Regions from separate parts of the Homo sapiens genome. Here region 2 is linked to region 1. Evidence: fine-mapped QTL for protein levels in blood plasma. Region 1 holds a variant in brackets. A gene starts in the other region. All regions are shown on their reverse strands. Region 1 has its middle 18 kb from the start of APOD. Region 2 holds the start of VSNL1 (visinin like 1).

The links. PIP is the posterior inclusion probability: the model's chance that the variant is causal. Protein levels are from antibody-based Olink assays in UK Biobank. Linkage for the fine-mapping came from a reference panel and not from the study's own genotypes, which makes the PIPs less certain.
Region 2: it holds the start of VSNL1, and the variant in region 1 is fine-mapped to the plasma level of the VSNL1 protein (UK Biobank, PIP above 0.99).

What each region holds. Positions count from the first base shown.
Region 1 is chr3:195,564,176-195,568,565 of GRCh38, reverse strand. No RefSeq gene overlaps it. Among named protein-coding and RNA genes, the nearest start is that of APOD, 18 kb to the left of the region's middle. The variant TTCA/A (reference allele first, on the strand shown) is at 2,196.
Region 2 is chr2:17,538,710-17,543,099 of GRCh38, reverse strand. VSNL1 (visinin like 1) reads right to left here and starts at 2,404. Exons shown (of 4, transcript NM_003385.5): 1 at 2,182-2,404. RefSeq lists an enhancer at 3,980-4,099.

The DNA.
Region 1 (4,390 bases):
AGACCAGTCTGGGCAACATAGCAAGACCTCATCTCTACAAAAATGTTTTTAAAATTAGCTGGGTATGGTGGTGCACACCCGTGCTAGCTACTCAGGAGGTGGTGGCAGGAGGATGACTTGAGCCCAAGAATTCGAGGGTACAGTGAGCTATGATGGCACCACTGCACTCCAGCCTGGGCAACAGAGCAAGACCCTGCCTCTAAAAAGAAAAACAGAAAAAAAAATCCTTAAGCAGTTATGTTGAAAAAAACCAAGCACTGAATTGTCCTCATTTAAAGGTAACAATCCTGTTTCTGGAGTGGGGGAAGCTGATGGCAAAGGCGTATTCTGGGTGACCTGAATCCAGATGCCCCCGTTCTGGAGTAGATGCTGCTTTCAGGGTGAATTACTTGGGCGTTCGGAGTCCCTGTGGGGCAGTTTCTTTGAAGTGTTTACTTTCTCCTCGGGTCTTCAGAGCCAGGCTGAAGAATGAACCCATCTAGGGGTTTATGTAAGGAAGAGGAGAATCTATGAGGAAGAACATAGGGAGTTTCTTTTAAGGAAAAAAATACATATATATATGTTGTCTTTCATTCAACTGATATTTACGGAAGCCCAATCGCATTCCAGGCATTGAAAAATACAGAATCCCTGTCCTCCCACAGAAGCTCACAGTCTAGTGAGGGAGAAACAAATAAAGATGCCGTTATAATCCAAGGTGAAGAATGCAAAGGCAGAGGCACACAGAGGGTGCCAGGGAGCTCCAGGAAAGTCCCAACCCCTGCCAGACACAGGTGGGCAGTAGGGTTGTGCAGCTACACCTATGAGCACTCCAATTTCCCAGGACCAACAGGTCTCAAGAACGTCTTTGTGGCCGGGCGCGGTGGCTCATGCCTGTAATACCAGCACTTTGGGAGGCCAAGGCGGGTGGATCACCTGAGGTCAGGAGTTCAAGACCAGCCTGCCCAACATGGTGAAACCCTGTCTCAACTAAAAATACAAAACTTAGCCAGGTGTGGTGGCGGGCGCCTTTAGTCCCAGCTACTCAGAAGGCCGAGGCAGGAGAATCGCTTGAACCCGGGAGGCGGAGGTTGCAGTGAGCCGAGATTGCGCCACTGCACTCCAGCATGGATGACAGAGCGAGACTCCATTTCAAAAACAAAAAAAACCTCCTTGAGTTTGTTTTTTAACATTGTGACTTGTAAAACCAGAAAGACCTCAGAATGATCGCCCTGTAATTTAACTTAGCTCACATAACTGACAATTTACTAATGTTTTGGGAAATGAATAGAAAATTCAGCCATTTCATTAGATTTTTGCTTTCTTAGCATGAATATGAAATGTTCATTTTCTGGAGCACTCGAGTCTCTTTGATGCTTTAATGATTACAAAAATCCCAAGGATTTTAATATATACAATTTTCATTTAACTAAATAAATACGACCTCAGAATATAGCTTCCAATTCTAAATCCCAAAAGGCTGAAAGCCGTTAGCAAAAAGGCAGTGAGGAGGAGGTGGGCATGGAGGGAGGAGGGCCTCTCCTGGGCTCTGCCTGCGGCCACACCCTACACTCTGACACACTGGCCCCACCGCCCCCCGCCAGAGGGCATTTGGCTCCTCTGCTGAAAGACAGTTATTCCTGAGTGTTGCTCTGGGGAGCTGGCTTTTATCTCAGGCTACAAAATAAGTTGTGATTTCGTTCCTCTTCATAGCTGTCTAGTAACATCTAAAACAATGAATGTCACTATATTTTGCAACATTTTTCATGTCTTGACCAACACATAGGTTCATTTTTTTTTATGTGAATGAATTACTGAATAGGTAGATAGACAAATGGACTGGAGTTTTTGGTAAGGAAGGAAAAGGAATTTATGAGGCAGGTGTCAGGGGTAACCGAACCTGAGAAAAATTTGGGGGAATCACAGGGCAGTATGTGAGTACCAAATGTCTAGAGGAAACATGGGGACTAACAACAAAAAAATCCAGAGGGGAGAGAAAGAGAAAGGAAGTAGGACATAAACCACAAAACAGAGGCAAAGTGTATCATAAATCTCACGCACCCATCATCAGCTCCAGCAGTATATATAAAATATAAAATCATCTTAAATTCCAGAGAGATTACATTCTCTGAGCACCTCCAGGACAGAAAACATAACCTTGCAATTTTTTGTTGTTGTTTAAAAAGTGTATTTGCTAGAGATTTCATCAATCTTGC[TTCA/A]GCTTTCAGCACCCCCTAACTTTTTTCCTAAAGTGCTTTGAAGCAGATCCCACGTATCACATCCTATTATTTTGCCCATAGCGACTTCAGTAGAAATCTCTAGCAAATACAGACCCTTTTTAGACAACAAGAAAAAATTGCAAGGTTATGTTTTCTGTTCTGGAGGTGCTCAGAGAATGTAATCTATGGAATTTAAAGATTATTTTATATAATCTGGAAGATGAAAAGGAAGAAGTATGCCCAAAAATGTTCATAGTTTTATTGTAGCCGTCCCCAAGCTGAAAGGGGCGATAAACTAAAGCTAACAGCAGAGGAAGGGTCATAAATCATGAAACAGCCACTTGATGTGATGTCATGTGTTCATGAACATTTGTAGTTGTAAGAACTACGAAGCCACACTCACTGCCGGGGGAGGTAGGGGGGTCCCAGCGCACGGCCTCACTGCCCTGCAGAGCTAGAATCTAAAGCATGTGGCTCTACCTCCCCAGCCACCCCTGATTGGACCAATATGTGTCCACCTGAGCTAGCAACAGCCAATCCACAGGCTGAACAGAAACCTCTGACTTCTATGGCCTCGCTGGATGGAAATGATAAACTGAGACAATCAAATAAGAGTTTGACTTTAAGCAGTCTGGAAAGAGGATCATTGAAAGCTCTGGTACTGCAAGGTCATGTGGCTTGTAGTGGCCACTACCGGCCATGCACTACTGAAGTGATGTGTGCGGAACAGAAACGCAGGGTAAGCAGAGATCCCCCCGCCCACCCAAGGCCCCCGACAGCAGCTTCAGTAGCTGTTGGCTCTCCCTGCCCTAGCACCAATTCCTGGGGAGCTTAGCCAGCTTAGGCGCCTGTCCTTGGTTTCTCTAAGATTAGGCACGTACACACAACTATTTTCTGAGACAATTTAACTTGACTGAGTAAATCTTCCTTGCAACCAGAATAGTCCTCAGACAAAAGCGTTCACAATATAATGTTGAGTGAAAGAATGCTGCATTTTAACTATGCTGTATTTATAGCCTCATGAAATGATGGCATAAAATTAAGAACTAAAAGTGAACAGAGGAAATGAAGGCAATTAATGTGTTAGCGTGGTGGAATTATGGGTAATTTCTCCCCCTCTTATAGTTTTGCGGCTGCTACTTACAGTGGAGGCCCTAAAACTTCAGACCGTAAAACCTCCTTCTAGTTCAGCCTGACCCTCTCGTAAGTCAGGTGTCCAAAGAAATAGGCTTCTTCTTCCAGCAACTACCTCAGACTTTGAGACCTTTCTGGACTATTATCCTATCCCACCACATCCACGGAACAGCTGAGATGTACTAGTTTGTGAATATAGGATGTGTTGTAGTTTAAAATTTCTCTATTAAAGTGATCTTTATTTACTACCAAAAAGGTTCTCTATACACTTTTCTAGGAGACATTAAGAAAGATATCAAGTAATTTAGAAAGTTTTTATTTTTATTTTTATTTATTTTATTCACTTATTTATTTATTTTTTTGAGACGGAGTTTCACTCTTGTTAAGCCCAGGCTGGAGTGCAGCGGCGTGATCTCGGCTCACTGCAACCTCCGCCTCCCGGGTTCAAGCGATTCTCCTGCTTCAGCATCCGGAGTAGCTGGGATTACAGGCGTGCGCTACCATGCCCAGCTAATTTTTGTATTTTTAGTAGAGACGGGGTTTCACCATGTTGGCCAGGCTGATCTCGAACTCCTGACCTCAGGTGACCCACCTGCCTCAGCCTCCCAAAGTGCTGGGATTACAGATGTGAGCCACTGTGCTTGGCTGAAAGTTTTTATTTTTGTAGTTGTCTAAACATTGTTTTATTTTATAACAGGTTTCCACCCCAAAAGCAATCATTTTCACCTTGGTAGTGAGAAACTACTACAATTTTTTATATTTGTTAAATATGGTCAACTTTCATGCTACAATCAATGTTTCGAGTAAACACAACATTCAAATAGACTCAAGAGTTCCCTAACACTTCCAGCAGAATAAGGCGATCTGAACTAATCATTGGATAATGCTAAGGAGCAGTGTGGTGGGAGGTACTGAGAGTGGGCCCAGCGCTAGCCCTGACCCCACTCATTAGCCACTCACTCCACCAGATCTCTCTAACAACTCTTCTAGGTCAAACATTTAGTCTTATAGTTTTGTATATGACAAATAAGGTGAGATTTTGCTGACAAAGAGGGAGT
Region 2 (4,390 bases), not on the chromosome of region 1:
ATAAAAGGGACCCCTAGAGACAATTTCAAAAGATGTGCTGGAGAGCAGACAGTTATTTATTTGAAGTCTGCAGCAATGTCACTGAGACTGCTGAAAATGAAAGAGAGAAGGAAACATTTCCACTCAACATTACTTTTTAATTGTTTATTCCATAGACTAGAAGTTAATTGACTTTTCTCTACATCCATGGTTCTGGGCCTCAGTTTCCTCATCTACAAAGCAAGGGGTTTGGACTAGATACCTTACAGGGTCTCTGCCTAACTTGATCCTCTCTGTCAACCTATGAGCCAGGGACTCCAAGACCAAGCATTTATCAGTTTTGATACCTAATTCCCCCCTTTTTCCTCTACCACCCCTCTTTATCAATGCAGTGTCAACACCTGCACCATTCATCGAACTGATGCCAATGCTCAATGATGACAGGGAGTATGGCTCAATTATGACAAATGATTAGTCCTTCTGCCCTGGAGTAAGGAAAGAAGGAATAGACAAGGCAGTATGATTTATACTGTGGATTTCCAATGAGAGGTTCTTCTCGAATTTTCAATTACAAATTTCATCCATTTAAATAAATTATAAATTCCTTTGAGGGGTTCCAAATGGTTGGACTGATCAAAGGGCCAAAGAGCCCTATTTGATGGCCCCCACACCCGATTTGAGGGAAAATTTATTTCATTTCATCCCCAAAATTGGATTTGCTTATTTCGTGGAAATCCAGCACGCACTAGCCATGCTTTTTTCTCATCTTTCTGCCTCATGCCCATTCTGCCAACCTGCTTCAGTGCAGCATTTTCTGGGGTTATTAAATACCCAAGGCTTAATGAGAGTGCATTCAAAAGTAAGTTGTTCAATGATGTAGGATCACCCCCTACTCCCCCCCACCACACACACACAAACACACGTAGGCAGTTTAAATGATAGTGGGGGTAAAATGTGTTTTCACAAGAGTTTCATTTTAAATTTGTCTCAACCTGAAATTCCTTTAGAAATTAAAATAAATATTAATATGTAGAAATAAAACTCCCCAGCTTTTCTTGCCTTCAACTGGAAAGTGATACACAAATAGTATGTACTTAGTGTTCTCCACAACCACCAACAATTCTATTTTATTTTAGTTTCCAAAATACGGACAGGAGGGCAACTCTAGAAAAATGGATTCCCACTCTGGCATCTCACAGGGCACTGATCAGGCAATGCGGAGCACTCATCATTTCCACCATGCAGGGAGCATCAGCCTCTCCTCGCTCCTTCCACGTACACATTCTTGTACCCCTGAGGGTATTCATCATTCTGATTTCCACCCGGGGTTTGACCTTGCAAAGACCCTTCTTCCAGTTTCTGGGCAAGGAACAACCCATTTTAACTCAAAACACAAAACGACCTTTTATCCTTTAAAGAAATACTACCAAATGTAACACACCTTGATTTACATTTTTTAACCCCAGATTCCGGATGGCGAACACGGAATGCAAAGGCAGGTAACTAGTTTGGGTCTGACAGTCCCCATTCAGCGACCGAGCCTGTGACTCCGTTCAAAATCGACAGTGCAGTAGAGCATCTTTCCCTTTTCTGCCCATTCACCATTGTGACAAAAATCAAAGACGAAAAAAATTATCTACTCATTTCTGAATACTGAGAGAAATGTGCTCATTTTGCGCCTGACTCCGTGGATCTTAAACACTAACATCCCGCTCAGAGATCAACCATGATTTCCATACCAATCTCATCCACTCAGTTTTACTTAGCAAACACCTTTGCTGCCCTTCCACAGTGAGAAAAATGGTGCACCAATCCCACGGATGACAGGTTGCTACTCGACTGTACCCGCTCAATAGTTTTATCAGCAACCGGAAAACTTCACAATCGGTCAATTAGCTACTTAAATCTGTCTAAGACAAACTAAGAAAGCATCTCAGTTTCACCTGTCTTAAATCTAGTCTAAGACAATCCCCCAAACACGCCGCATATAAACACTCCCCCTTCCCCCACCCCCAATATTCCAAAAGATCCCCCATGGACTAAGAGCACATTCAGATCGCCAGCATTAAGCAAGGAAATTGTCCCCATGCATTTAGACGCATCTATGCAAAGCAAAGTATGTGACAATAGCCAAAGCATTTCTCTGACAGTTGGTTGCACTACACATGCAGAAATGCAACGAAGATTGTATTTTCCACTTACAGTTACAGCGCTGCGCACGGTCACTTAACGAAAATGATAAAACTCAACAGTTCTTTTTAAAAATATATATTTAATTCGGGTAAACGCTTAAGCCGTCTCTGTGTGTGGTTCTCTCTCGCTCTCTTTTTCTCTGGAGCTCTGGGCTGCTTAAATCCCTCTTGGATCGCGCCTTGCAAGCCCAGCCGCTGCCGCAACACGCTCGGGTAAATCTCTGCTGCAGATTGGGAATCCCATAGAAAACCTAGGGTCCCTGGAGCTGGATGCGCAGGCGCGCGAGCCTCCGCCTCTCCAGGCACCCCCTCCCCTTTCCTCTCTTCCCTCCCCCCAGCTCCGCAGCCCCAGCTAGGAGAACTCGGGAGCCTGTGACCAAAAGCCGCCTGGCGATGGCGCATGCTCAGTCGGAGGGGCTCGGAGTTTCCGCGGGTGGATTCCACGTCTCCAGATTTTAGCAAAAGCTCAAAAGGAAAGTATATAGGAAAAGGGAGTCCGGCTACCGGAGCAACCCGCACCTGGACGGGCGCGAGGGACTGCGGGTTACCCGGACTCGCCACGCCCAGTGGTTACCGAACCTGGGGGCTGAAGGCCGAGGCCAGAGATGGAACACGTGGAGCCGCTTTTCCCGCTGCTTTCTGTCCTAGCCGACCCCCGGCCCACCCTTTGTTAGGCTGTAAGGTGAAGGAGAAAACTGCAGAAATCTCCGAAAGAAGACTTCCCAGCAAGCTGTGAGCACGTCTACCTGGCTTACTGAAGGAACGGTTATGGTGGTCATTTTGTCATGGGCCATTTCATCAGAGGGTCTTCTGCTAGGAGTACTGGGAGCCGGGTCCTGCAGCACCCAGTGCCCCGGACAGTCTCGGTCCAGAACGGCGTTGAAAAAATGTGTGTTAAAGGGAGCTGGGATCCGAGGCTTCTTGCCCTGTGTACCCTGAGCCAAGCGCCTTCTGTATGCACTTAAGTGTTTTTAACATATGCTTTGCGTCTGGGGTGGGAGGGGGTGGGTGAAAGGGCGGGAATGAACCATTTTGCGAACCCACGTTTAAGGGCTCTGATTAGGCCATCTTATAAAGCCCCCTTTGTGTCCTTGAACAACTAACAGGTTTGCCAGCCCTCCCCCCGGCTCCCCATTGGCCTGCCAAAGCCTAGAAGGCTTGGCAAGGAGTAGTGCCCAATAAATGTTTGGTCGGTCGCTTCCCTACCAGAAAAGCAAGGAGAATTCCCAGATGTTCCCAACCAGACCAGTTTTCCTCAAGTGTGTATGTTGTACATGAACTCATTCAACAATTATTCATGGAAGCATTTGCAAAACTATTAGACATTCCTTTATGCTTTGGGAATAAGTGCGGTTAACAAAACCCCCTCCTGGGCTTTACATTCAGGTGGGAGTTTTATTTTCAAGGGAGGGAAGTTCTGGGGGCGAGATGAAGATCGAGGTTCTCCTTAAGCAGAGCGCTGTACAATTTGCACAGCGTCTTCACACACCTTATCATGTTCAGGAAAACTGTAGAGTTGACCTACCCTTCGGTGCTGGGGACACCAAGAGCGTCTCCCGTGGCAAATGAGCTCTAAATTGACAAATCTCCAGCTGCTCCTGGTTCCAAGTCGAGGAGTCCAGCTTTGAACAAACTTGAGACTACTTAAGTGGGCACCAGGAGAAACTCCGCCAGACAAGTCTGTGGCTGTCGACATGCTAAGTGAGGGCCTCAGGCAGTGATGCCTAAGCCTCATTCGCTGCCAACCTAGCCAGCCCAGAACCCAGGAACTGGCTTCCCGGGCAGGACGCCTCGGGAAGGTTGCGCAAAGGGGGAGCGCGCTCTCGGGACTCCCGGGACACCGCCCGCGGCTGTCCCCTCTCGGCAGGGCTCTTCCGCCAGTGCTGGTGACCGCGGAAACCCGGAGCGCGGAGTCGCGCGGACCACGGCGCGCGGCCCCGGCGGGCTGCGGCAGCCGAGCACGTTTAGAATCTGGCGGGCGCCAGCCCTTCGCTCTGGAGCCGCAGTGCGCACTGCGCTGCGGGGCTCCCGGGCGCGCCGGGCTGCTCCTGTTTCCTGGGACTGGCAGGGGGAGTCAGTCCTGAATAAGTCACTTTTTCTTTTTAGCTAGAAAAACGACTTTCAAAAGGCTTTCAAAATCTCGTCTTTGGTCGATTTCCCCTACTACAGCATTTTACGCTGAGTTCTAGTTTCTCTCTCGAGAACAGCCTCCGCACTGT